Linked DNA regions of Homo sapiens: all the other regions are linked to region 5. Evidence: fine-mapped expression QTL. A gene starts in region 5. Each other region holds a variant in brackets. All regions are shown on one strand. Distances are from middle to middle.

Region 1 (4,000 bases), 380 kb before region 5:
GAGAAGCGGCTGGGAGTCCCAGCGTGGGATGTGGTGGGACGGGGCTGGGGTGTGCAGAGACGATGATGGAGGAGCTCCTGGGGGCACACAGACCTAGTGTCGCTCTCAGGGCTGGGTCCGCAGGCCACTCTCCCTCCCTCAACAACACTCACGCCTGCTGCAGCCCCAGGAAGGGTCAGGACTCACAGATGCCAACAAGCAAGCAGCCCGTGCTGGAAGCATCACCACCACCGGCCCCAGCAAAGGCTTCCTGGTGTGTGCGGCTGACCATCGGCCACTCGGGTAGACAGAAGTGTGGGTGGGCTGTGTGCATGCCAGGGCAGACGGACAGCCCGGGGTCTCAGGCCAATGGAAACAGGAAGTTTCCGGCTCCATTTGAATACTGGTGGAAATGCCGGGCCCTCATGCTGAATAGGACACTCCATCCAAGCTTGCCGCCTCCTCGGAGGCTTGGGCCAGTCACCGGGCCCGGCTGTGCTTTCACAGCTGCTTTTCTTATGGGAGAGCAAGATCTCCTGGGATTCAAGACCCTACCAGGAGTAGAAGACAAGGGTCATGGGAAGGCTGTGTGAGCCCTCAAGGGGCACCATGGACCCCGAGCACCAGCGATTTGCGCTCCTGGTTCCGAGAGCCCAGCGCTGAATCCTGGCAGATGGGGAAGCTGAGCTCTGTCTGACCTGCTCTGGAAAACAACTGGTCCAGAGAAGGACGAAGATGTCACTTAATTCTGAGTTGCTGAGGATAAGCCAGGGGCCCTGGAGGTGACTGTGCTGCCCACAGCATCCCAAGGGATGCCACATCCCCACAGGGGCAGCCCAGGTCCCCCAGAGGATTGTGTGCCCCCCACCACCAAGGTCCTTGCCCACTGGTCTGTGCCTCAATAGGACAGCCTCCTTCTCACACTATTTTGAAATATAAAAATAACACTCATCACCCATCACCCAGTCACTCAGAATCACACCAGCGGGGGCACAGAGGCGACGGCATGTAGTTCTCCAGCCTGTTTGTGAGCACGGGTGTACATGTACACACACACACACACACACACACACAAATGCACATGCACGGACACATGCACACACACATACACGTGCACACACAGACATGCACACACACGTACACACATGCACACACACACACGTACGCACATGCGGGGTCAGGGAGCTGATGCTGTGCGAGGCTGTCGAGGGCTTCTTCACTCAGCGGCACTTGGGAAGCGCTGCTCTGTGGGAGGCCCCTCATCCATGTCCTCGTTATTGGCAGCACAAATCTCCAAGTGAGGAGGGGCCATGTTTACCAGCCGTCCTTCCAGCCCACGTCTCCTACGGTTCCTTATTTTCACAGGTACTGTTTTGCAGACACAGAGCCCCCAAGCAGCCCACACGTCTTAGCCGGGTGAAGCTTTGCTTTATGAAGTGCTGCCTGGACCCCTGATGGTCGGCCCTCCCCGTCGAGACAGTGGCAGGCAGGCGGGGGTGCTCAGGGCTGTCTGCAGGGGGCAGCCAGGACCTCACTGAGGTGGCCGACTGGGTCCACGCCCTCCTCAGCCTGCACTGCTGGACAGGCCCCAAGAAGTCGTGCTCGGCGTGGCCCAAGAACGGGAAGCGGCAGCGTCCTGGCGTCCTAGGTGAGACTTCAAGACGGCTCCCTGCTCCCACCTGGGCTAAAGGTGGAACCCCAGGTGTAAAGAGCCCCCTGGGGTACAGGGGAGGCTGGATCAGCAGACGCCGGCTCTGGGAGGGCCCTGAGGGGCTGTGGAGGGAAGGTGACCCCGCAGTGGCAGCGGCAGCGGAAGCAGGACGGCGCGG[T/C]GCCCGACACCTGAGGCCACTCTCCCTGGACGGGGGGCGGGCGGCACTGAGAGGCGGCCATAAAAACCGGAGTTTATTTAATAAAACAAGAGCCCACGCGGCAGCAGTTGCCTCCAAGATGAATGACAAGCGCTGGAAGGGCGGCCACCTTCCTCCAAGGAAGAAACAGCCCCGCTTTGATTAGGAAAATATTGGTTAATTTTCCAGTGGAGTGAGTGACCTTAAGGGGAAAAATCTAATTTCCGGAACAGCTCTGTGAGGCGTTTGTTCTCACCACTCTCGTTCGCCTTAATCTGAGTGGTTGTGGGTGAGCGGCGGCCGGGGCAGCGGCTTCCCCTGGACCTGGTGTTCGGTCCTGAACCCCTGGGCAGGCCTCCCCTTCTGGGGCAACAGGACGGAACCGACAGGCGCCCAGTCAGGTCCCGAGGGCCCCTCTGGACCCACGCCTCCAGGCAGCTCCCATCGCTAGACATCCTTTCCCACAAGAGTTCTATCTTACGAGGCGCCCACCCTGCCTCCTAGGAACTCACCCCCTGCCACCTCTGGAGCCACCCAGCTGCCTGGGCCCAGCTCAGCCCCCTGGTACCATGAACAGAAGCTGCTGCTTTACACTGGCTGTGGGGCCCAGGCTTCCTCTAGTGGGTCCAGGTGGGGGTACCCCAAGTTCCTGCAGGGCTCCAGACGGTGGGTCAGGGCCTGGGCAGATGATCTCACTGCCCCGAGCCTGTGCTTGACTCCGGGGAGCTGCACAGGTGACTCGGCAGAGCCGGCCTGGGCCGGAGAAGGCACGGGGCTGGACCCAGGTCCGGGGACCCCCAAAGCCATGGTTGCCCAAGTTCGCAGAGGGGAACAGGCACCCCAGGGCACAGGGCTAGCCCTGTGATCAGGCACCGCACTATCCACCCCTGCATACTGGCCCTGCCCAGCCACTGGTGACAGCAGTGATTGCGACAACAGCAAACACATGTTCACTGCAGGCCAGACCGTGCACAGAGCAGCCTCAGAACTAGGAGCTCCTCCCCTCCTGGGATGGGGAGTGGGGAGGGCACACCGAAACCTGCCTGACCCCGTGTGGGACCCCCATAGGAAGCAGCTTCCGGGCATCAGAGAGCAGGAAGAGACACGAGAAGGGCCTGGCGTCGCGTCCGTGGGTCGAGGACCACAAATGTGTTGCCCTAAGCTTCTGTGACCCTGCGTCCACCGTGGCAGCCCGGCTGGAGCCAACAAGGTGGCAGGGAGGGCAGGAAGTAAGCCCACAGGCCACAAGCGTCTGTGCCAGAATCTATAGGCACTCATGTGGCCCTCCCAGCCCAACTGCTGACTGATGGCGGCAACCCTGTGGGGTGACCCATGCCCAGACCAGAGCGGGCGGCAGGAGCCCGGCCTCGGCCGGCACAGGGTGGAAGGTGGGGGTGACCCACGCCCAGACCAGAGCCGGCAGCAAGAGCTTGGCCTCGGCCGGCACAGGGTTGGGGGCTGATGGCTGAGCCCATGGAGAAGGTGGGGGAGGGTGTCTGCACGTTCGTCCTGGAGATGGGACTCGAGGTCACGGGAAACCCCGACAGGGAGGCCGTGCTGGGACAGCTCAGACCTCGAACGTGCCATCCTCGTGGATGAGAGGCGTCCCCAGCAGTGCCCAGGAAGCCCCTGATGAACTGTGCGTCACCCCAGTGACCAGGGCCAGAGGAATCTGCTCGGGGCCCCGGGACAGCACGGCTAGTCTGAAAACTCGAGGAATGCACGATTCCTGGAAAGTCACCAATCACCAACCAAAACGGTCCCAAGAAGAAGAAAACTAGAATGGAACAGTTAGTGAAGGCGTGGCGAGGAAGACGGCAGGAGGTCCACACAGGGGAAGGTGCTGGGGACACAGCCTTCAGTGCCGGCGACCTCTGCTTTCTCAGGAACAGGCACTTACAGTGTCGCGAAACCTGTTCAGCATCCCAGGCAGGCGCAGAAGGGCCTAACTGATCTGTGACGCCTGCCTGCCAAAGGCCAGGCCTCCTAGGTGCTGCCCAGGGAGCTAGAGTCGCCTGCCTGCCAACAGCTGGTTCGCCTGGCTGCTGCCCGGGAGCTGGAGTGGCAGAAACAATGGGTGGGACCAATGGTGGGAAGAGCTCGGGGAGGCAGGGCCCGGCACGGGTGGGCGGACAGTGTCAGCGGCAACGAGAGGGGCTGGGAACCTTCACTGG
Region 2 (4,000 bases), 68 kb before region 5:
GTGCAACAGGCACAAACCGGCACATTAAGGATGGGCGGCCAAGGCCTCCAGGGAGCAGGACTGAGTGAGCACCACAGTGTTTACAAAACTCAGGAGTGATCACAGAGCCCAGGGGCTTGCTCTGGGAGTGTGGGTTGGGGGCGTAATGGGATGGAACTAGGGAAGGTCCACATGTTTTCAAAGAAACTTTCCTTTTTCTTGAGAATGGGCACACAGGCGACAGTATGTATTCTTTGTTTTTTGTTTTTTGAGACAGAGTCTCACTCTGTCGCCCAGGCTGGAGTGCAGTGGCACAATCTCGGCTCACTGCAACCTCTGCCCCCCCGGTTCAAGCGATTCTTCTGCCTCAGCCTCCAGAGTAGCTGGGATTACAGGCGCATGACACCACACCTGGCTAATTTTTTGTATCTTTAGTAGAGACAGGGTTTCACTATGTTGGCCAGGCTGGTCTCCAACTCCTGACCTCATGATCCGCCCGCCTTGGCCTCCCAAAGTGCTGAGATTACAGGCGTGAGCCACAGAAGCACACTTTTCTACGTATAATGCATTTTAAACTTGGTCATGAGAGTTGCTGTGCAGCAGGAATCGACACTCTCCTAGGCAAGCCTGGGGAGCACTGGACGCCCTGGAGGCAGCCTGGGCCTGGCTCCTCTCAGAGCTGCCCCCTCCTCACCATGCGAATCTGACACAAAGCATCTCCCTCATCCATGCCAAGAATTACTGGGAACAGAAACGTGCATGTAAATAGTCTTGTTTTCAAAAAGCAGGTTCTGCAAACCATCCCAAGCATAAAGAGGCAGCAGAGTTAACACCTTAGTGTCTGCAGTCAGTCAAGCACTCAATTCTAAGTCCATTCATTGCGAATCTGTGACTCTGAGCTCTCCAAACCTCAACCCCCCACCTCAGGAAAATGGGAACAGTTACAGTCCAGCATGGACTCACTGAGAAGCGGATGCATGCAGACACCTATGTCCTCTTCTCAATAGGTTACTTGTATAACGAACCGCTGTATAAACAGAGACTACAAGATCAGAAATAAATATTTCTCTATCCACTGGCCTCTTTCCAGAGGAGACATAAGGTGATTCTAACATCCTCAGGCACTGTTCCAGAGTGCCGACTGATGCAAAGGAATGGGAGAGGCAAGAGAACAGCCTGGCACAGCAGAAAGCCCGCACTCTGGAGGCAGCCAGGTGAAGGGCCCAGCTGAGCCTCAGTTTTCTGGTCTATGAAACAGACAATTCGACCCTCCTGCAGGAGCTCTGCGCTGAGGGCACCCGGCAGTCAGTGGAAAACCCTGGACCCCTGTGACGGTTGCTGGTGCCCACGCCCATCGCCCGAGCAGGGGCAGACGGCATGCCTATCAGGTTGTAGGTCACATCAAATGGAGACAGCAGATATGTTAAGTGACAGAATCAGAGTCTAAAACCACACTAAGAAGCAGGAAAAATGGGGGGGGGGGGGGTTGCGGGTGGTAGAGGAAAAATAAATTTTTTGACAGTTGCACCAAAAAAAAATCAATTGTAGAAACATATGGTGGTAGGGCACACCTGCTCCATCAGCATAATCTGTGAAGATGCCTGCAGAATCTGCATCCAGTGAACAAATTTAACTGAGCACCTGCTGTGTGCCCAGCAAGGACACTACATGGACAAACAGACAGAGTCCTTGGCAGCTAGAGCTGAGTGGCTCGCT[A/G]AGGAGGCCGACCATGACAAGAGTGGGCAGGTGACATCCCCAAGGCCCAGAGGAGGTGACAGTGGCTTGATCCAGTGGCCGGATCTGGAGAAGAGTGGAAAGCCTGAGGCTGAGGGAAGGGGGCATGTTGACCCGGGAGGGCCAGGAAAGGGCTCTAGCTAGGGAAAGGTGACACCTGAGCACAGATTCAACGAAACAAAAGGTGGGCAATACAAATACGGCTGGGCGCAGTGGCTCACGCCTGTCATCCCAGCTATTCTGGAGGTTGAGGCAGGAGAATCGCCTCAACCCGGGAGGTGGAGGTTGCAGTGAGCCGAGATCGCACCATTGCACTCCAGCCTGGGCGACAAAGTGAGACTCCATCTCAAAAAAAAAAAGAAAAAGAAAAAAAATAGAAAGGGAAGAATTTATAGGAAGTTCTACAACAAACAAGGCTAAGCTACAGCTGCCGGGGATGAAGGGCTGGACTGGGGGGACCCCGGGAACTCTGGACTGATAGAAGTGTGTTATCTGGACGAGTGCACATGTTCCACTTGTCATGACTCATCCAACAACACACCTCAATCTGTACACTTCAGTGTCCAGGCTCAGGGGATGCCTGAGCCGTCAGCATGAACCCACGGTCACACTCTGGGATGCGAGCCACCATGGGAGGATGCTGCTGCCTGCCGCACTCCAGCCACCAGGACCACCCTCTGCAGAGCGGGAAGAAGCAGCCGTGCACAGCAGGGAGCTGAAATGGGGAAACGTGGTCCAGGGGAGAGGGGACTCTGCGCCGTGTTTCACTAAACCAAGGTGGTGTCCACGGCACGAAACGACCAAAACACGCGTCTCAGCTCAACAGAATGGAAGGGGTGGGACAAGTGGGTGCTTTGCTAGGTGGCAGACTCCCCATCCCCAAGAGGTACAGGGAAAGACTGACGGGCAAGGTGGCTGGAGGCTCAGGGCGAGACAGAGTGCCCCTGAGGACCACGGTGGGGCTTGGAGCAACATGGCCATGGCTGGATGGCCACCCCATGCTGCCCACAGCCCCGCTGACAAAGGCAGGTCTGTGTACGCAGAATGACCGGCCCCCAGGGTACACCTGTGCCTGGAACTCCAGTGTGGTTACTGTGGGTCCACATGCTCTGCGAAAGAGGAAGTAAGTCCTGGGGTCCATACTGATGAACGTCTTAGAGCTATTAGGGTCACTCATTAAGTGACTTCAGTAAAACCACACGTTCTCCCATGTGGAAACTTCTGACAAGAACAGGCCGCCAGCAGCAAAGTCCACGCCACCACGACTGTGACGTGGTCCATCCAGACCTCGCCTCCCAGGAGGGGATCCCGCCGCAGCCCTGGACCCAGGCCATGTTTTACAGCTCTTTTGCCAGAAACTGGCCCCCATCTCTCTGAGCTGTCCACAAGTCAGCAACTTGGCTCAACTGCTGCAGGGACATGAGTTACAAGGGTCCCCAGACACATGTAAATAAAATGAAGAAATGCCGGCTTTACAGTTGCTGCCCTCGCACTCTTTCTCCCAGCTCAGGAAGGATCTCAAGGGCTTCAAAGCAGCCTGGGTTCCAATTAAGCCCGTGTGACCACCCCAGGGATGCCAGAACATTCCTGATTAACAAGAGGCGCTGTTTGAACTGTTCAAGCTAAAAAAAAGCCCTCAGAACCTTTCAAACAAATGCCATAATTTTCTCTCCCTGTTTCCTCACTCTTTGGAAAAGCTGATCTTTTGAATGCTTTAAACGTTCAAAAAGAAAGCTAGATAATGGCCCCAAACACAACTTCGGCAAGAAGCTCAGAACAGGGGCAGCAAGTGGAGAGCTTGGGATGCAACCACACACAAGCAGGCCCGCTTCCGGGAGGCGTGGCCCGGCCGGCCTGAGGCTGTGACAGCGTGTGTCCACTGTCCACAGCAGCTGGGCCGGGAGAATGACCTGGGCGGAACCACGCCTGGCAGGGAGCTGCAGGGCCTCCATCATCATGCCAGGCGAACCCAGTGACAAGGGCCTCAAACAGAAGAGGCCCAGGGAAGGGCAGCCCATGGGCCTGAGAAGCACCACTACACACCTGGGCGGCGCACTCCGCTCACAAAGCACTCTTCCAGGAAGGGCCCCGGGCTGCTGGAGACTGAACCGGAATCTGCCTAACTGGTGGAATCCCCTTTTACAAAGAAGTGCCTGTAGCTCACGGGGCTAGAACCCAGGAAGGCCCCAGGTGAGCTCGAAACCCTAAAGCAACCCCGCTGTGGACAGTGGCATCGCAGATAGGAGAGTGCCGGTGAAACAGTAAGACCAGGGCAGCATGCTTCACT
Region 3 (4,000 bases), 97 kb before region 5:
CTTCTAGTTTCTTACTTGGTTTTAAGACGGAAATAGTTGACAAGTAATAAGAAATTAGCTTCTCTATGACAACAAAAAGAAAAATCTGCCCATTTAAACAGGACCAGTCACCAGAGCCCAATTGTGTCCAGCAGCTGCACACGTCTCTGGAGAGGCCACCCTCTCTTAAGGACTAGTCTTGGATTTGTGGGGTTCTCAGAGAGCAACTTGTGGCTGCCCAAGTTCCTGGCTCCACCAGAAATCAGGTGGGCATGATCTCCAGGCCCCAGGGACACCCCTGCTGCTCATCTAGGGCAAGAACACCTGAAAGAAGTCAGCTCTGCTGCTTATGGGTTGAGCCATCTTCCTTCAACTGCCCGGAATGCTGCAAAGTGGGCCTTTTCTAGGATACATGAGTCACCGTTTCCAGAAAAACCAGAACTGAGGACACCTTCCCAGACATTCAATGACTGACGTTCATTAATGATGTTCATGTTCAACACACAAAAAACACCCCCTACAATCTAATCAGAATTTTGAGCAAACACTACCCAGAAAGGTAAGACTAGCCACGAAAGGTGTGAAGGAACGGTGAGCGCACCTGCCTTCAGCCCTCACCCACCCAGCAGGCAAGGCTGAGCAGAACCTGTGTGTGGGGCCCTCAGGCCACTAGGCCCTCCTTCTTCCAACTGCACACCTGTGCGGGGCCAGACTTATTCCACAGACTCCAAAAGAAGAGACCGTGGCAGATGGACGCAGACACGAGATGCTCCCATCTTCTATTTCACCAGACACTGAAGAGATTTGTAAAAAGTAAAAAACAATGCCATTCCTCTCACTGTCTCGTTTTGTGTTAGAAAATGCATTTTTCATAAATATATTTTGTTAAGTGATAATGAATTGTTTTTAATGAGATTATAAATATAATTGTAAATAATGATTTAATTTTAATTTTAATTTCCAAAGATGGTAAATACTGATAGTTATGATTCCCCACAAATAAAAACTCTTTGTTTTCGGTAATTGTTTATCATTAAAGGGGCCTGGACTGACAAGTGAGGGCAATGCTGGTGCAGAGGAAGGCTCAGGTGGTGGGCAATGTCCGGGCCTCCTGCCCCCCAGCTCTCACAGCGACCCTCGGGACAATGCCCACCAGCTCTCGCCACCTCTCACGGCCACATATGGGAGTCCTGCCTGCCACCTCTCATGGTGACGTGTGTGCACATGTCCCAGGCCCAAGGGAAAGTACACTCATGAAGGGAGCAACGGCCTCAGCAGAGACCTGAATCTGAGCCTTTGGAGGTGAGTCCAAGGATCTCTATTTTCAGGCTCTTTTCGCCATATAACTCACAAGCAGCCAGGCATTTGGGAAGCGTGGCCATGATCAGGACCACGCGGCCCAACGCTCTCTAGTCCCCTAAGGGATTCACTGCTGGTTTCTCTTCCCAGGCAGAGGGAAAGCTCCTTCAGGGCAGGGGTCACAGCCTTCCTTCTCCTAGAGCCCCTATGTCCACTCCAAGCTCAATGAGACAGAAACAGGAAGCCGCACTTGCCCCACGCTGACCAAAAATGCCTGTCACAGCCACGTCCACACTGTTCCTCCTGCAGACTCTGCGCAACTGTGTTTCTCGGCCACAGTATTAAAAAAGGGTCAGCATTAAGAGGCTTCATGCCCTG[C/A]GGAAGCGACCTGTGATATCTGAGCTTGAAAAAGCATCGCCCTGATGAGAGGCAACGTGGTGAGAGGGCACAGGCTTAGGAGACAGCCAGCCCTGAGCTCACAAGCAGACTCCAGGCTGAGTGGCTCCACAACCTTGGGGAAACTGGGGCAAAGCGAGAGGCTCCCCGCCAGCAGGCAGGATCAGTGCCAGGGCAGGGGGACACGTGTGGAGTGCCTGGTACCCACAGGTGCCTAGCAGTGGATGTTTCTTTGTTCCGACTCTCTTACCCAAGTTTCCTAACAGGATCGAGAGACCCTCCCAGGTCTATGGCACCAACTCGAGCTCAGGATGCTGGCAACACCAACACCCTCCCTCAGACCAAGTGCACTCACCTGCCCAAAGCCTGCCCCTTCCAGGGGCTCCTGTTCTCCACAGGCAGACTCTGAGCCAGCTGCATTCCTCGGTGGGGGCCCTTCCCATCTCTTGGCATCTCCTCGGGGCTCAGCAGTGGAGGCCATGGTGGGAGGGCCTGAGACTGATTTTATGTTCTGCCAAACAAGGAAGGAAAGCGTACTCCAATCGCCTGATGGCACCGGAGCTGCTCTCCACACCTGCACACCAAGAATCCCAGCTCGGCATGGAAAGGAGCCGGCAGTGGCCAGCTTCAAGGCTAAGAAGGAAGCTCTTGGCTCAGAGCTTACAAAGTTTACAACAAGTTACAGGGAAACTCAAGAAAAGCGTTCATAAGAGGATGCTCCCAAGTCCACTGATGATGCCCTGGGCTTGGCAGTGCCGGGCATGAGAGAGGAGGCCTCGAGGACCCCACCTCAGTCTCCCCAGATAGCAGCTCCTGGCAGCCCTGACCCTGCTCTAGGCTCCGCTGTGGGGTGTGGGCTGCTCTCCTGGGGTTAGGCTCACACAAACCCCTTCAAAATAAGCAAGGAAACAGAAGTTCAGGGCACCAAAATACTTAGGGACCAACCCCAGCAAGGGCCCTTCTCCCATCTCCCTATTCTCTTCCTGAAGCAACAATAAACAACATTCAAGTAGTATTCATTTCTGTGTTTTCTCCAAATGTTTGAGGAAATCTACATTCTACTACCACCTTTTGGGGGCCAAGAAAGATGTTCGCTTGCAAAGGACAGAACTGACCCAAGCACCCTCTTCTCAAACGTATATGGCACTCCAGATGCCGTTTTCTGATTTGGGGAGCTGAGGTCAGACACCTTCCGCTCTCTAACAGAAACGTCACAGAGCGGCAGGCATGTTACCGGTCTGCTTGGCCCATGCAAGTGAGGGGCCCACACTGCCTCCTCCTTCCCTTCTGCACCTTGCACACACCACCTCTGGCCCAGGTGAGTGAGGGGCCCAGGCTGTCTCCTCCTTCCCTTCTGTGACTTGCACGTGCCACCTCTAGCCCCAGGTGCAGACAGGCTTGTGCCATGGCACTGCCTGAAAACCTCAGCCAGGAAACAGAGCGCTTTCCCCATGGTCCCGGGTCACCTCAAAGATGCCACCTCAGGCTCCCACACAGGCCAGATCCACAACCGGAACAGAAACTTCTCCAGGAAAGGTCTCCTGACCAGCAGTTTCTGAACTGTGCTCCTCTGGCCCTGGAGGCTCCAAAGAGGGGAAGCCAAGCAGGAGGTGGACGTATGGGGCAACTACACGAGGACACGATACCGGCCATGATGGCAGCTGCTGCTCACAGAGCGTTTCTGTGCCGACGGTGCCATGTCGGATAACTATGCGAGGGCCACACGACACCAGCCACACGACACAGGCCATGATGGCAGCTGAAGTTCACAGGGCGTTTCTGTACTGACAGCGCGGGCCAGCCCATGATCAGAGCACAGAGCTGTGAGTCCCAGGCCCTTCACCAGGGCTGCACCCACGCTGCGCTCTCACCACCACTGGGCAGCCCCTGACACTGCGGACCTGAGACTGCTGTTACAAAGGGTTTCATGGGGGTGGGAGGAAATGCCAGCTTTTTTTTAACTTGCTAAAGAGGGTGAGAGAATGCAGGGGTGCATACAGGGTCCAAAGGGAAGGAGAAAGGAAGGGGATGCATCTGCTGCCCCAGGGGACGTGCTCCCTGGCCACCGTCCTGGCTGCGGCAGCGCTCAGCAGGCTGGCGGTGGGGCGGTCAGCTCTGCAGGTGCACTTAGTCCAGAGCCACTCAGCCTAATGAAATGAGGCATCCTGAGAACCACGACGAGGTGGGCGCCAGACCAAGTGGCCTAGAGAGATGAGCACTTCAGCATGCAGAGGTTGAAAACAGATCCTACTGACAAAACGGAAGGAACCACATCAAGAGGTGGGGATTGGGGGCATGAATGCCAGACGCACACTTCCGGCTTGTT
Region 4 (4,000 bases), 220 kb before region 5:
GACAGGGCAGGAGGGAGTTGGGAGAACGAAGGTGGCTGTGGCCTGGGGTGTCAGCCACAATGCGTGCCTGTCCTGGGCCTCCCCAGGTTCTGTGGAGGGAGGGTGTGAGAAGCTCACAGCAGAGTCCCAGCACCGAGGAGCATTTGGCAAACGTCCACTCCTCCCTCACCTTATTGTTCCAAGAACACAGCTAAAGTAAGAAAAACAAAGAAAACACCGAAACCCGCACGGCCCAGCACAGGAGAGACGGGACATCACTAAACCCGCACGGCCCAGCACAGAAGAGAGAGGACATCATTAAACCCGCACAGCCCAACACAGGAGAGACGGGACATCACTAAACCCACACAGCCCAACACAGGAGAGACAGGACATCACTAAACCCGCACGGCCCAGCACAGGAGAGGCGAGGCAGGACATTGGGGTCCCGAGAGACCCAAGACGACGCTCTCTGTGTGCGCAGAGGAGGCTCCCAGATGGGGCACCAGGAAGCTTTGGGGGACAGGCTCTCATGGGCTCCAAAATGCGCTAGAACTTCTCCTTCTGGACAAGCTGTAGGAACCAGCACAGACACACCCCCCACCTCAGTCCCCAGACACCAGATACAACACAAGGAACAGTGGGATTCCTGCGAGGGAGGGCAGGCAGCTCAGAGCTCAGAGCCGCGGGAGGGGATGGGGTGAGTCCCCCAGGACGCAGGCCGGGGCAGTGCCACAGACAGAGCCCAGCAGGCCTGCTGGGTGAGGAGAGAGGAATGGGAACTCCAGGAGGCACAGATGGGCAGCTGGGCCTGGCAGGCCAGCACCAGACAGAGGGAAGGGACCTGAACAGACGCCACCAGAGAAGAGGCGCCGAGGTGGAGAAGCACGGGAAACGCTGGGCACGTCAGTCACTGGAGACACACAGATTGAAGCCAGGGCTAAATGTGCTGCTGCCCCGCTGGATCCAGATACCAAAGCCGACAGTGCCACAGCGGAGCGTTCTCCCAGCTCTGGTGCCGACAGCCTGTGCAGTAACGCGTCACTGGACCCCGCGTGTTGCCACGGTATGGCCGCTGGGAAGAGCCTGGCAATGTCTTAAGAAGTTAGGGCCCGGCCCGGTGGCTCACGCCTGGAATCCCAGCACTTTGGGAGGCCGAGGCGGGTGGATCACCTGAAGTCAGGAGTTTGAGACCAGCCTGGCCAACATGGTGAAATTACTAAAAATACAAAAATTAGCTGGGTGTGGTGGTGCATGCCTGTAGTCCCAGCTACTCAGGATACCAAGGCAGGAGAATCACTTGAACCCGGCAAGCGGAGGCTGCAGTGAGCCAAGATCACGCCACTACATTCCAGCCCGGGCGACTGAGCGAGACTCTGTCCCCACACTGTCCCCGCCAAAAAAAGTTAAACCCCACAATCCTACTCCTGGATGTAGAGCCCAAAGGAATGAAAACCTGCATTCACAGGAAGTCTGGCACGCAGATATTCACAGCAGCTCTGTCCCAGCTGGCAAGAATGGGAAACCACCCTGGTATTGGTCAGTGGGTGAACAGACGAGACCATTTTGGTAGAGTCTCAGGATAGAGAATTATTTTGTAATAAAAGTAAATGAACTGCTGATACAACGTTGATGGGTCTCAAAAGCTCTGTGCTCAGTCAGAGATGACAGACACAGCAACTGCAGGACTCTGTTTACGTGAAGTTCCAAGAAAGCCCAAAACAACAGTCACAGGCCCCAGACCGGTGTCTCTACGAGCCAGGGGTGGCAGGAAACTGACGGTCAACATGGATCAAATCATACAGATAAAGCTGGGGGATTTTACTGAGTATAAATCATATTTCAATAAGGCTGCCTTTAAAACATGGAATCCCCAGAGCTC[G/A]GGGAGAACCACACTCACAAGGGCGAGGAGCTGGCACAGCCCGTGTGTGCACTGGAGAGCAGCTCCCGCAGGGCCTCAGACAGCGCAACTCCAGGCTGGTCTCGGTAGGGTTCCTCCAGGAAACCGCATCTGTGATGGAGGCAGTGGGTGGGCGGCAGAGCACCCCCTGTGGAAACACCCTGGACAGTGCACTTTAGCACTGACTGTGGGGCTGCCCAGTCACCTTCGGGGGACACAGACACCTCTCACTCTCTGGGTGACCGGGTGGAGCCCCCAGGCCCTGGCCACAGCGTCCTCACCTCTGAGACAAGAGCTCCCCAAGCTCAGGTTGGCTCCGCAAGGCAGTGTAGGGTGCAGCCTGTTCTGATGCGGAGATGGTGGGATGGAGAGAGAGCTTCCCAAGGCCCGGGGTGGGGGCTGGGCTGACGGCTGGGAACACCAGATGCCAAGCCTGCTCGCAGGCAGGCCAGGCACTTCCCCAGCCTCAGCCCCTCCTCCACAGCCCACCCCGGGCTGGGTGCAGACACACAGGAAGCTCAGGTGGGAAGGAACACGGCTCCATCCCAAACAGCCTCAGACGCAGACACGCAGGAAGCTCAGGGGGGGAAGGAACACGGCTCCATCCCAAACAGCCTCAGACGCAGACACGCAGGAAGCTCAGGTGGGAAGGAACACGGCTCCATCCCAAACGACCTGACGCAGTGCTCGGGTTCCCCAGGAGAGGCCAAGCCCACTCGGAGCCAGGCTTCAGGGGCACACACCAGGGAGCACTGAGGGGTGCGGAGGCTGTGGGGAGAGGGTTTCATCACATGGCGGGAAAACCAGTACGAGCAGGCCCCCAGCGCAGCCACGCCCCGGCCCCGCAACCCTGGCACCGAGTGACCAGGGAGCTGCCTCCACCCAAGCAGCTGAAGGGTCACACACAGCTCTTTCCGGGTGGGACCACGTGTCCCGGGTGGCTACGTGTGCTGAGACACGAGCCCCGGGCCCTGGCGCCCTTGGCACCACCGAGGTGCTGCACAGAGGCCTCAGCCGGGCTATTTTTATCCTGAGGTGAGAAGTTGCTGCCTGTGATCCAACACTCCTGCCAGCCAGGACATGGCAGAAAATGGCTAGGACAGGCAGCCACAGACCCCAGCAGCCACAGGACAGCCGGACTGAGGAGGACCAGAGGGCACCAGGCACAGACCCCACACACGGTACAAAGGCTGGAGCTAGGGGAAGGCAGCCCCACCGGTGGTCATGGTCACGGTCACGTGGAAAAGGATGGGACGGAAGCTCAGGCCTCCACCTTCCTGGCCAGGTCTCCAAGTGGCTTGTGACACAACGTGAAGAAGCAGGAGGCGGCACACCACAGGGTCCCCACAGGGCTAACCAGGCCACAGCCCCAGCACCTGCCCCTGGGTGAGGCTGTACACAGAAGCTCTCCCTGTGGGTGGAGGTCTGAGGATGACTGTGAGCCCAGCGCTGGCCACAGAGCACACAACAGGCAGTCAGTGCACGGTCAGGGGCTCCACTGCAGCCCCTGATGCAAGGAAGGCTAGGGGGTGGACGCCCAGGCCCTGGGGGATGCTCTGAGGGTGGCAGCAGGTCCTCCCATGGTGGAGAGGACAGAGCCTGCCCTGGGCTTATTCCTCACGCCCAGCAACGTCAGCTCCTGTGCTGGGCAGCGGTGCTCTAAGTGTGTGCTGCCGGGGGTGGCACCGGCGTGTCACGGGGAGCCCGGCTCAGCGCAGTTCTGTACTGCACAGACGCCCCGTTCTGGGAATGGAGCCAGCACCTCGCGATTCCCACTGAGGACCTGTGGCCACACAGCAGAGGCTCCCACAGCCCAGACTCCAGGGTGGTTTCCATAAACCCCTTGGCCCACTTTTCTTCACTGCATGATTTTTAACAGGTTTTTTTTTTTTTTTTTTTTTTTGGCTTTATCTCTGCTTCGTACAGTACAGTCATCTCAAGTTCTTTCAATGAGGGAAACATCACCAACACACTCACAAGTATTGGGCCTGGTGAACAACCCGAGGCCCTGAAGATCAGGCTCTCCCCAGCCCTCCTGGAGCCAAACCACCCACGGCAGCCAAGTGACAGCACCCGCAGAGCTGCCCGAGCCTCTGGGAGGTCACGGGGAGGAAGGGAAGA
Region 5 (4,000 bases):
GGTGTGCGCCTGTAATCCCAGCTACTCAGGAGGCTGTGGCACAAGAATCGCTTGAAACTGGGAGGCAGAGGTTGCAGTGACCTGAGACCGCACCACTGCACTCCAGCCTGGGTAACGGGGTGAGACAGTGTCTCAAAATAAATAAATGAATGAATAAATAAATAAATAAACATAAGCCAGGCACTGTTGCTCATGCCTGTAATCCCAGCACTTTGTGAGGCCAAGATGGGCAGATCACCACAGGTCAGGAGTTCGAGACCAGCCTGGCCAACATGGTGAAACCCCATCTCTACTAAAGCCAGATGTGGTGGCGTGCACCTGTAATCCCAGCTACTCCGGAGGCTGGGACAGGAGATTTTCTTGAACCCAGGAGATGGAGGTTGCAGTGAACTGAGATCGCGCCACTGCATTCCAGCCTGGGTGCCAGAGCAAGACTCCGTTTCAAAAAATAATAATAATTAATTAAAAAAAAAATCTGGCCTCTGGGAATCAGAAACGAGGCATGCAACAGTGACAGTAAAGATGATGATCATCACAGCTGTGCTCATTTTCATTGTTTATTTCTAGTGACATTAATAAGTACTACTACTATTTTCAACTAGGTATCAGAAAGAAAGGTATCTGACATTTCCGAGCACCGAGACTTCTTGAACTTCAGTTTCCTCATCTGTAAACTCATGACAGTGAAATCTACTTGCAAAGTTGTGGGGAACGGGGCCAATATCCCTCAAGTCTTCCACCGCTAGATGATGGGAATACGGCTGCAGGTTGACCAGCACTATATTTGTAAGCTCAGTCTCAACAGGGTGGTGAATTAGGTCTTTTTACACAGATTCTAGAGATGATGAAACCGAAGCTTCAAAAAGTTACAGAACGGAGATTGGAACTTGGGTCTGTCTGGCTTTGGAAGGCTGAAGACAAACCGCAGTAAAGAACTTTGCACCCCCAACACCGGCGCTTACTATGGGCTCATGGCAGGCCGGCCCACCAGCCACAACTAGGGAACAGCCAAGCGCGTTTAAAAGCCAAAGGTAGAACTTCTGCAGCTGCACAGTTTCTGAGTTTCCATTTAACAAGAACCTTGGCCTGGTGCAAGCAGAGGCCTGAGCTCCCCAGGCTGCCAGCCCCGCAGAGGCAGGCCCGCCTGGAAGGAGGCTCCACAGCCCAATTCCTCCATTGCCCAAACGAGATCAGGGTGGCCCTTGCCATCCCCGAGGGGAAACCGGGCCCACACGCCCCCTTCCTGAGAGCGGACCGGCGCGAGCCACCAGGATGCCAAGAGCCCCTGCAGCCCCGACTTCTCCACCAGGCGCCAGCTCAGGCCCCTTCCTCGGCGCGCCGGCACCCTAGCCCGGGGACCCACACGGTAGGCAGCGGGACCCCGGGGCTGGGACCACGAGCACGCGCCCCTCGGCCGCCCGCCCTGGCACAAGGGACGGCTGCGGAGACCCAGGCGAGGGGCCCGCTGTCCCCAGCACAGCCCAAAGGGGGAGTGGGGACAGGGGAGTGGGGAGAGGAGGGGAGAGCACAGAGAGGAGAGCGCGCCCATGGGAGACGGGGCGGGCGCGGGGTCCTGAGGCACGGGGTCTGGGTCGTTGTGCCCCACCCTGGCGAGCACACCCGGTCCGGGCCCTCGGCCCCTCCCTTGCCATTCCCGGGACCCCCGGGACCCCGGGACCCCGCCGCCCGCGCGAGCCGGGCCGCTTACCTCAGCCGCTCGCAGCCAGCTTGCCGCCGCCGCTCGGATCTCCCTCCGCTCCGCCGGCGCCCATTTATCGCGACACTTGCGCCTGCGCTCTCGCGAGACCTGCGTGGCAATCGGGCCGTAAAGAACCGAGTCTGCGCACCGGCTGATCCTGGGGACTCCGCGTCCGCACCCGGAGCCGCCACCCCTGGGAGACTCCGCACGGAAAGGACTCGGAACCGAAGGCTGAGCCAAGGCGCAGTCGGGGGCCCCCCGGCTTTGCGCAGGACGCGCTTCCACTAAGGCTTTCGCCTCGCGCCGTAATGTGTGGAATAGCCGCGCCCACGGCAGCCTCCTCGGACAAACTTGCACCGTTGACTCTTCCCAAAATTTTGCTACTCAGTATCAGCTTGAATCAATCCGTTATTTTGCTTTTTTCTGGGCCCACTAGAAATGCAATTTATGCTACTAGGCTACCTTCCCAGTGCTCTGCAAGCCAGGGCACAGCATCCAATGGGGTGAGGTCAGGCCCCACCATTATTATGGTAACCTTTGTCTATCCTTCAAATTGGAGCCTTCCTGAGAAGAGTGTGCCTTACTCGTTTCCATATTCTCTTCCTCTCCTCCTCCCGTCTCTGCCCAGCCCCTGGCTTCCCTCTAAGAAGATGCTGTTCCTAAGGGTCTGCAATGAATTTTCCTTCTTTCAGAGAAAGACTTCCAAGTTGTGTGCCCCGGGAATGAAATGGAATAAGAGAACGAGGTGGAGTAGGGCAAGAGTCCCTGGACTTAACAACCTGACTGCAACCAGAAATAAAATGAAAAGTCAAAACATCTGGCGGCCGGGCGCGGTGGCTCACGCCTGTAATCCCAGCACTTTGGGAGGCCGAGGCAGGCGGATCACGAGGTCAGGAGATCGAGACCATCCTGGCTAACACGGTGAAACCCCGTCTCTACTGAAAATACAAAAAAAAAAAAAAAAAATAGCCGGGCGTGGTGATGGGCGCCTGTAGTCCCAGCTACTCGGGAGGCTGAGGCCGAATGGCGTGAACCCGGGAAGTGGAGCTTACAGTGAGCCAAGATCACTTCACTGCACTCCAGCCTGGGTGACAGAGTGAGATTCTGTTTCTCAAAGAAAAAAAAAAATCAAAACATCTGACCCGCAGTTTCCTTCGGGGAGCTGGACAGAGCCCCAGATTCCTGATGGAGATTCCTGGGTTTCCAGACTTCCCCCACTGGTCCTTGGAATTTAATCATAGTCAACAAACTCTTCTTGAGGGATGAGTACACCTCCAGGAAATGGCTTTGAGGAAGCCAGTTTAAAAAAAACAAAACTTCAAAGCATGAAAGTACCTTAAAATAATGCAATCTCTATTATTTTATTAAATATAAAGCTGCGTCAAGTTCCTAGATGAGTAAAAGAAAATAAACACACCACATCACTGCTTGCTTTGGCAATTACATTTATGTTCTTGGGAGCCCAGACACTGATATAAATTTCCAGCAAAAACCAAAGCAGACCCACTGCCTGGATAAATTCAGACCATACGTCTTCCCTAATTGTTCCGGGAACTTTTGCTGCTTGAAGAATGCGTGAATTGCTATATTGTTCACCAGAAAGACAGAAGTTAATCCCCAGATGGAAATTTCAGATTTTTCTTTTGGTTTGCTTTTTGGTTTTTCATTTTTGTAGACATGGGGGGTGTTGCTATGTTGCCCAGGTTGGTCTTGAACTCCTGACTTCAAGCAATCCCCCAGCCTCAGCCTTCTAAAGCCCTGGGTTTACAGGCATGAGTGGCCTCACCCAGCCCCCAGATTTTCTACTTTAAACAGCCACACTAAGAACTGGAAATCTGTGCGTGGTGCTCTCAGAGCAGGGGTGGAAAGCCTGTTTGTGTGTGACAGTTTAACAGTCTATAAGATGAAGTCCCGTCAAGGCACACATGGGCACACCCATCCCTGCCTCGGCGGATTCCTTCTGATCCTTCCCACAGTCTGTTTTTCTCCATCCTTCCATCCTCACCTCTTTCTCTTGATAACTTTCTCTTCCCAAATCACAATATAGCGGACTTTTTCATTTTCCATGGCCCCTGAACTTAGTTTTGTCATCTCTTTTTGGTTAAAAAGAGAGAGAGAGAAAGAGAGAGAGAGACTCCCCACTTGTCCTGCTCCATCTCCAAAATCAGCTCAAATCTCCCAGGAACTCTTCAGGAGCTCAGGCTACGTTTCTAGCTTAAAAGGAGCTAATGACCATTATGAAAATGGCACAAGAAATCCTCACTGCTTCACAGTGCCCTTCCTTCCGTGGTACTGTGTGGC
Region 6 (4,000 bases), 390 kb before region 5:
CTAACAGACTCCTCAGTCATTTAGGTTGGGGGCAAAAGGGGCTGGCCGCAGCTTCGTGTAGGTGGAGCAGGGCTTGGTGGGAGGGCGGGGCTAGGTGGGCTTGCCCGGGGTCGAGGTGGTGGTCACCGTCTAGTCCCCACCCAGGACAGACACTCGGGGTCCCAGGGAGGGCTCTGCCTCCTGCCTGGCAGGAAAGCGTCCTGCCCCCTGCCTGGCAGGAAAGCGTCCTGCCCCCTGCCTGGCAGGAAAGCATCCTGCCCACCCGGTGCCATGGCCTGGGGAGTGCTTGGCTCTCAGGCCAGCTGCCCGCAGGACAAGCTGGGCCTGGGGCGGGGAACCAGCCTGTTCGCTTCCGAGTGGGGCTGACAAACCCCCAGCCTCTTCACAAAGGCTCCAAAAACAGAATGTCGTGGAGAACTGGACGCAGATCCACAGGGCCATAGAGAGCATTTCCGGCTTAGTCAAAGGAGTAACTTTCTAACAGTTTAAACGCGCGAGATGGGATGTGCAGGCTTGGGAGGCAGTGGACCAGATAAAACCATTGGCCAGAAGATACAGAAGGGCTCTAGGCTGCCCAGGCCCTTCAGTTAGAACATCCCCCCCGCCTCCCCCCGGCTCCCAGGGCAATGTCAGAGACCATCTGGATGGAGGATGGGGCTGGTCCTGGCTTCTCACAGCTTGGGAGGTGGGGCAGCTGGGCACCAGGTCAGCAAGCCACAGGTCCACCCACGGCCAGGGCCCAGGCTCCCCGCCTCCCCCCATAACCACCTAGGCATGGAGCACAGACCCTGCCTGGCCATCGGCCCCCCAATCCCTGCTGGAAGACGTGCCCAGGCGGAGCAGGACCCCCGCATTACTGCTGCGCATCCAGCACCTGCAGCGGGGCCCAGCACGGCGGGCATTCCACATGGGCGAGGGCCAGACGAGTGAGCCACACCCCACCCTTTCCTCAACCATCCCCCATGAGGACGACATCAGAGTCATCCCCCAAGCCCAGGTCTGACACTCTCTTTCCCCAACTTTGGCCTGGAGCCCGAGGCCTACCCCTCTGCTCTCCCTGCACGCTGGATGCCCTGGAGCCGGTGAGCGTGAGCAAGTGAGATCCTGAGGCCAGAAACATCTCCCCAACCCAGCCAGACAAACTCTAATTCACCCGTGAGCCCCAGCTCCAGGCCACCTCCTCCAGGCAGCCTTCCTTGACTGCAGTGCGCCCCGGGGTATCTGGGAGACGCCTCTGCACAGTCTTTGAATCGGGCTGTACAAGTATCTGTCCTAGCAGCAGCAGAGCCGCGTCATAAACAGTAAAACAAGCCAGGCGTGGTGGCTCACACCTGTAATCCCAGCACTTTGGGAGGCCAAGGCAGATGGATCACCTGAGCTCAGGAGTTCCAGACCAGCCTGGCCAACATGGCAAAACCCCGTCTCTACTAAAAATACAAAAAAAGCCAGGCATGGTGGCGGGCGCCTGTAATCCCAGCTACTCGGGAGGCTGAGGCAGGAGAATCGCTTGAGCCCGGGAGGCAGAGGTTGCAGTGAGCCAAGATCGCGCCACTGCACTCCAGCCTGGGCAACAGAATGAGACTCCATCTGACAACAAAACAAAACAATAAAACAGCAACAGCAGTTCAGGGCTCCTGCAGTTCAAGGTTTTAGCGGCCTGGGCATGCGGTTTCTCTGCCTACTTGGACCTGAGCAGCCTCCCTCTGCCCAATGTCACTGCACACTCCCTGCATGCCCCAGCCCTGACTCGGGTGAGTGGACCGTGCAGACGGCGAGAGGCCACGCAGGCCAAGCCAGGATAGAGCAAACCCTGGCGGGGCCAGGTGGTCCCCGTGCGTTTGCAGCCTGGATGTGATGCCCAAATCTCTGGGCCAGGCACAGCTCTCCACTGCCGGCGGCTGGTGGGATTAGATGTGACCAAGGCCGCTCCCGGGCCGGCTCTACTCTGTGGGGGGCAGGTGCGGCTCTGGGGGTCCTGTTGGGCCTGAGCACGTCCCGATAACCTGGCTGCTGCCCACTGCCCAAGCGCCAGAGCACACGGCCACCAATGAGAGCTGTGCTTCCCTGGTCCTGGGTTAAAAATATCCCCGTAAGTGACAAGACTTTGAGAATTTCGTCTCTCCAGTCACTCACATGGGGGGCGAGGACAGCTCTTGGCTCCGCGTCTCGCCCGGCTGCATCTGATGCCTCCCTGGGCTGAAGCTGCATCTCATGAAACAGACGAGAAGTCATTCACAGCCCGACAGCACAGGCACAGAAATTTGCTGTTTTATACCAAGTTGAGC[G/A]GCCTGTCATCTAGAAGCTTCTGTCCTGACCTCCTCAGCAAAGAGGAAGTCACGGAACCGGCTGCTGAGCCTCCTGACCTCGGCCTGGCCTCTCCTGGCAGCTGTGGGCCCCAGGATGAAAGCGGGCACCACGTCACTCACGAGACAGAAGCTGTCGTTCTCAGAGCCTCCCAGGTGAGTGGCCGGGCGCCTGCCTGAAGCTGGACGAGCCCACAGTGGCTGAGGCCGGTGGGGACCCAAGGGGCCAGTCCGGCCTTCCCGGACCACCAAGGAAGGTGGGCGCTGCTTCCCTCGCGGGGCAGATGGTCTCGGCCGTCACTCTGCTGTCCCCGTCCTGGCTGTGAGCTCAGCCTCAGTGTCCCCACCTGTGAAATGGGGAGACCCCCAATCCTTCTGGGCGGGTGCCTCGCTTCTGCCCTCGCATGAGTCTCCCCTTCCTGAGCTGGGATTCCATCTCTGCTGGGAATGAGGTGCTCCCTGGCTGAGAACCCGGTAGCCAGGCACAATCACGCCGTCACCACCCCAGCCCTCAGCCAGACCCTGCCTGCTCGCCGCGCTCGGCCGCCATCTTCCTGTGGACGCCACTTACCCTCCGGCGTCACCATCCGCTGCAAATTGCCTTGTTTTTCGTCTTTGGCAGGGCTGAAAATTTGATCATGAAAGGGAATTTTCTTTTTTTTTCTTAATTAGTACTTGGTAATATCACCAAGCTGTGAGTTTATGGCTTTGTAGATCTTGTGTGTTTGACACTAACTACTCACAAAGGCTTTTAAAGCTGCATTTCAACTCTGCAACTACCATGCCGGTAATTAAGCCAGAGGAAGCGGCGACAGATTTCACTTTTCACAGACACCCTTCCCACCTGTGCTCCCGCTCCGTGTGGCCGCAGCCCCCGTGGCCCTGTGGAAACCCAGCAGCTCCCTGCGGCTCCGGCCCTGGAGGCCTGAGGTGGCCTTGCCTCCAGGAGCCCGGCCTCAGCCGTCACAGCCGGGCTTGGCCCTGCACTTAGGATCCAAAGGGCAACTCTTGGCAGCTGGAAAGGTTCTCCCAGTCCACAGGCCGCCAGAATCCCTTCCGGCGCATGCCTGCCTGAGCTGCCACAATGCCGCGTGCTCACTGGCCCCCCAGGCCTGTCCCAGGCGAGCTGAGTAACTGCAGCCACCTGAGCCCCGGCGAGGGACAGACAGCTATGCTTCTTCAGGTCCCCGAGGGAGGCCTTCGTCCTTCGTCCATCGCTGGGCCCATCATTTACTGAGTAGCTACTGCCTGCAGCTGCAGAGGCCTCCACCTCCCACTCCTCACCTGGGCCCCTGCAAGGCAGCCGAGGCCCAGGGCACGGTCAGGCTGTGTCCTGGAGGGGAGGGTGGGCAGGGCCTCTGAGTGCTGCACAGCTGCGTCCCACATGTCAGCCCCTCGCCCAGCTGGCCCTCCCTGTGGCTCAGCACACGGGCTGCCTTGCGGCTGGTTCCCGGATGGGGAGGGTACACTGCCTGGAGCTCAGGGGCTGGCTGGGGTGAGTCCGAGGCCGGGCTCCAGCACAGCCTTCAAGTGAGGCCCACAGTGGGGCTGCTGGTACTGAAATGGCATCCTGGCTTCCCAGTAGCACATTCCTTGAGTGTGTCAGTCCCTCTGGGGACCATCTGGAGGACGGGGGCTAGAGAGCAGCCCTGGTCATTCTCCACCAAGACCACACATGAGGCCCCGATGGCACAGTG
Region 7 (4,000 bases), 450 kb before region 5:
CCCTGTACTGTATTTTTCAACCAATCCCTGTACTGTGTTTTTCAACCAATCCTGTACTGTATTTCAGTCTCCAAAAAAAAAAGAATATTTTTCATTCTTTTTTCAACCAATCCCTGTACCATATTTTTTCATTCAACCAATCTCTGTACTGTATTTTTTCATTCAACCAATCCCTGTACTGTATTTTTTCGTTCTTTTTTCAACCAATCCCTGTACTAACATTTTAGGAGTGTCTTTTTTGTTTTTTATTTTTATTATTTATTATTTTATTTTTATTTTTTTGAGACAGAGTCTTGCTCTGTCACCCAGGCTAGAGGGCAGTGGTGCAGTCGCGGCTCACTGCAACCTCCACCTCTCAGGTTCAAGCAATTCTCCTGCCTCAGCCTCCTGAGTAGCTGGGACTACAGGCACCTGCCACTACACCCAACTAATATTTTGTATTTTTAGTAGAGATGGGGTTTCACCATGTTGGCCAGGCTGGTCTCGAACTCCTGACCTCAGGTGATCCACCTGCCTCGGCTGGGATTATAGGCATGAGCCACCACGCCTGGCCGTGGGCATACAATTTTAGAGCTTTTCTTTAACAGTTTTTTTCTGTCTAAACTTGGAAGATAGTTGTTCCTGTTCCTTTTTTGCTTCTTTTATGTGTGATAGGAAGTCGTAGGTGGTCTGTTTGTTGTAGTGTATGGGTGACCTGTATGTTCTCTGGTGCAGCTTTTAAGCCCTGTGTGTCATGTTCTGCAGTTCCACTATGAGGCACCTCTGAATGGATTTCTACTCTTCCTGCTTGGATTCATCTGGGTTTCCTTATCTGAAAGACTATGTCTTTCATTCATTCTAGGAAATCCTTTGCCATTATCCCTCCTGACAGTGCTTCTCTCCTATTCTGTGCAGAATTTCTTTCTGCAGCACCAATTAGCCCTGTGCCGGACCTTCTCCCCTGACCTTCTGTGTCTCAGAGCCTGTCTTTTCACCTCTGATTTTCTTGGTGCTACATTCCCTGTAATATCAACTTCCAGTCTACTAATTCTCCCTTCAGCTGTGTCAGTCTGTGTTCAGCCCTTGTGCTGCAGTCTGTGGATTTTCCGCAGGTCTACCTTCTAGTCTGCCAATTTTTTCTTTTTCTTTTTCTTTTTCTTTTTTTTTTTTTTTTTTTTTTCGAGACAGAGTCTCACTCTGTTGCCCAGGCTGGAGTGCAGTGGCTCAATCTCAGCTCAATCTCAACCTCCATCTCCCGGGTTCAAGTGATTCTCCTGCCTCAACCTTCGAAGTAGCTGGGATTACAGATATGTGCCACCATGTCTGGCTAATTTTTATATTTTTAGTAGTGACAACGTTTTGCCATGTTGGCCAGGCTGATCTCTACCTCCTGATCTCAGGTGATCCACCTGCCTCGACTTCCCAAAGTGCTGGGATTACAGGTGTGAGCCACTGTACCCGGCCCCAATTTTCTAATTCTCTGTTTAGCTGTATTTATCTGCTGTCTAATCTTCCCAGTGATTTAAGATTTATTCATGACTATATTTGTTTTACTTTGTTTCTTTCCTAGTTTTTAAATTCTCTTACTATGTTTTCATTTCCCTATTTCAGGTCTTTAAAAATATTAAACGTTGTGTTTTATATGCTGTTTTCATTAAGACCAATATCCCAGGTCTTTCTGGGCCAAGTTCTATTTGTTATTTGGGCTGATCTTTTACATGGTGTCTTGCTTTCTGGTAGTTTTTTTATTAAAATCATATTATTGTACATATTATATGTAAATATATATTTGAACTTGACCTTGGACATTCTCTAAGGCCTGGGTTGAGGCATATTCCTCCAGAGGAAAATGTGTTTGTTTTGGGCAGGTTCCTGAGGCACTACAAATCCACATTAAATTACAATTCTCAGTTGGGCACGGTGGCTCACGCCTGTAATCCCAACATTTTGGGAGGCCGAGGCAGGCAGATCACCTGAGGTCAGGAGTTCAAGACCAGCCCGGCCAACATGGTGAAACCCCATCTCTACTAAAAATATAAAAATTAGCTGGG[T/C]ATGGCGGCGGGCACCTGTAATCCCAGCTACTCAGGAGGCTGAGGCAGGAGAATTGCTTGAACCTGGGAGGCAGAGGTTGCAGTGAGCCAAGATTGCACCACTGCACTCCAGCCGGGGTGATAAAGCGAGACTCCATCTCCAAAAAATAAATAAATAAAATTAATTACAATTCTCACCTTGTCATTTTGGGGTCATGCAAAGAGCAGAAGATTTAGGAGCCAAGCCCGTGGCAGGGCTGGTCAGTGCTGCACATTCTCTCGGGATTTAAGAAATAAACTTGCCTGGTACTAAGGTTAAGACAGTTTCCCTGCCGACTAAGGCTCAGGATGTTTCCTAGTTCGCCTTTTCCTGAAGGGGGCAGCCATTCCAGAATGCTGGCTTCAGGCTGGGTGCTCTCTGACCCCTTCCCAGTGTGGTCCCCAGGCTTGGTGCCCCGTCCCTCTTAGGACAGAGTCGCCGTGTCAGAGCCACCTTCGCTCCCCGAGTATCTGCTGGCTTCAGCCCCTCTCCTGCCTCTTGGACTCTGGCTGTCATTTTGTCCATGGACTCCCAGAATTTCTTTTGGTTGCTTGCAGGTTCATTCTGGCAATGTAATTTAGGTGTTTTGCAGGGAGTAATTGCAGGGTCTCTAGTCCAGAGCTCTCAACCTTAGCTTATATCCGAGTCCTTGTTAGCAGAGCTTGTTAGCAGAGGTTCCCAGCACCCCCTCCAGAGTTTTGGACCAAGACAGGCTGGGGCAGGCCTGAGAATCTGCATGTCTCAGGAGCTCTCGGGTGATGCTGGTACTGCCGGTGCATGGGCCACACGTTGGGGGCATCTGCCCCTTTTTCCTCTACAGCACCTGGCGGGCACAGGCGCTCTCATCAGGCACGGAGGAGCGCCACATTGGGGGTGTTCAATTAATCTGGTGTATCTGCCTCGAAAGCCACCTTCACAGTGACTCAGATTTTAGCATGTGTGAGCATCACCTGGACAGCTTCTTAAAACACACAGTGGCCGGGCGCGGTGGCTCGCATCTATAATCCCAGCACGTTGGGAGGCCAAGGTGGGCGGATCATTTGAGGTCACGAGTTCGAGACCAGCCTTGCCAAAATAGTGAAACCCCGTCTCTACTGAAAATAGAAAAATTCACTGGATGAGATGGCTCATGCCTGTAATCCCAGCCACTTGGGAGGCTGAGGCAGGAGAATTGCTTGAACCCAGGAGGCGGAGTTTGCAGCAAGTGGAGTTTGTATCACTGCACTCCAGCCTGGGTGACTCTGTCTCAAAAAATAAAATAAAATAAAAACACATAGCGTACTTGCCATCAGACTGTTAATATTAGTTACAAAGAATCAACTTAGAGTTTCTACGTGTCACTAATAAACTATTATTCACATAAATTCTGTTTTTATGTATTGCTTCCTCCTGCTTTCTTGACATGTGTCTTGATGTCTTTAACCCACTAGCTTCATTTCTGCTTGTTAAATAATGAAAACATTTAATCCTATGTATTTTTTTTTCATAGTCTTAGCTGGATCTAAGTTTAAACAGCGATTATTTTCTCCATCGTTACAGAGTTTAAGTGCAGTTTTTATTTCCTCTTTGACCCAAGACTCATTTAGCAGAATGCTTTACACGTGCAACTGAATCATAAAATGCTTCTTAATTTCAAGTTATAATGCATTGCTGTTTGAGAAAATGCTCCACTCAATTTTTTTTTTTTGCATCTCAATGTATTGTCAGTCTTTCTGTCACATAGACACTCAAAAGTTATATTCTCTGCTTGAATAAAAAATAATTTGAACATATATTTATCTCTTAAGTATATCTCTTTTACAACATTTAGATTTTCTCCGATTTTTCCCTCCTTGAGCGAGCCTTATGATTCTCCAGAATCCTGCCTGGAGAGTTCACAGACCATGACACAGGGAGGGGGACCCCGGCTGAGCTGCTGGACTCACAGAGCTGAGGAAATGGAGCTGAGGGT

Evidence for each region.
Region 1: its variant is fine-mapped to the expression of MAD1L1 in whole blood (INTERVAL, PIP above 0.99).
Region 2: its variant is fine-mapped to the expression of MAD1L1 in whole blood (INTERVAL, PIP above 0.99).
Region 3: its variant is fine-mapped to the expression of MAD1L1 in whole blood (TOPMed, PIP above 0.99).
Region 4: its variant is fine-mapped to the expression of MAD1L1 in whole blood (TOPMed, PIP above 0.99).
Region 6: its variant is fine-mapped to the expression of MAD1L1 in whole blood (TOPMed, PIP above 0.99).
Region 7: its variant is fine-mapped to the expression of MAD1L1 in whole blood (TOPMed, PIP above 0.99).

What each region holds. Positions count from the first base shown.
Region 1 is chr7:1,848,022-1,852,021 of GRCh38, forward strand. All of the region lies in intron 18 of MAD1L1 (mitotic arrest deficient 1 like 1), which reads right to left. Among named protein-coding and RNA genes, the nearest start is that of MIR4655, 5.8 kb to the left of the region's middle. RefSeq lists an enhancer at 1-501. The variant T/C (reference allele first, on the strand shown) is at 1,809.
Region 2 is chr7:2,163,143-2,167,142 of GRCh38, forward strand. The region is part of intron 10 of MAD1L1 (mitotic arrest deficient 1 like 1); the gene reads right to left. Among named protein-coding and RNA genes, the nearest start is that of MAD1L1, 68 kb to the right of the region's middle. RefSeq lists an enhancer at 2,821-3,150 and a silencer at 2,975-3,185. The variant A/G (reference allele first, on the strand shown) is at 1,696.
Region 3 is chr7:2,134,564-2,138,563 of GRCh38, forward strand. The region is part of intron 11 of MAD1L1 (mitotic arrest deficient 1 like 1); the gene reads right to left. Among named protein-coding and RNA genes, the nearest start is that of SNORA114, 48 kb to the left of the region's middle. RefSeq lists an enhancer at 3,958-4,000. The variant C/A (reference allele first, on the strand shown) is at 1,657.
Region 4 is chr7:2,006,312-2,010,311 of GRCh38, forward strand. All of the region lies in intron 13 of MAD1L1 (mitotic arrest deficient 1 like 1), which reads right to left. Among named protein-coding and RNA genes, the nearest start is that of SNORA114, 81 kb to the right of the region's middle. The variant G/A (reference allele first, on the strand shown) is at 1,862.
Region 5 is chr7:2,231,164-2,235,163 of GRCh38, forward strand. MAD1L1 (mitotic arrest deficient 1 like 1) reads right to left here and starts at 1,782. Exons shown (of 19, transcript NM_001013836.2): 1 at 1,709-1,782. MRM2 (mitochondrial rRNA methyltransferase 2) reads right to left here. Exons shown (of 3, transcript NM_013393.3): 3 at 3,032-4,000. The coding sequence ends at 3,959. RefSeq lists silencers at 1,281-1,700, 1,678-2,056 and enhancers at 1,691-1,985, 1,771-1,900, 2,635-3,167.
Region 6 is chr7:1,839,139-1,843,138 of GRCh38, forward strand. All of the region lies in intron 18 of MAD1L1 (mitotic arrest deficient 1 like 1), which reads right to left. The region is part of intron 1 of LOC100127955 (a long non-coding RNA gene); the gene reads left to right. Among named protein-coding and RNA genes, the nearest start is that of MIR4655, 3.1 kb to the right of the region's middle. RefSeq lists an enhancer at 1-408. The variant G/A (reference allele first, on the strand shown) is at 2,286.
Region 7 is chr7:1,785,024-1,789,023 of GRCh38, forward strand. No RefSeq gene overlaps it. Among named protein-coding and RNA genes, the nearest start is that of ELFN1-AS1, 45 kb to the left of the region's middle. The variant T/C (reference allele first, on the strand shown) is at 2,031.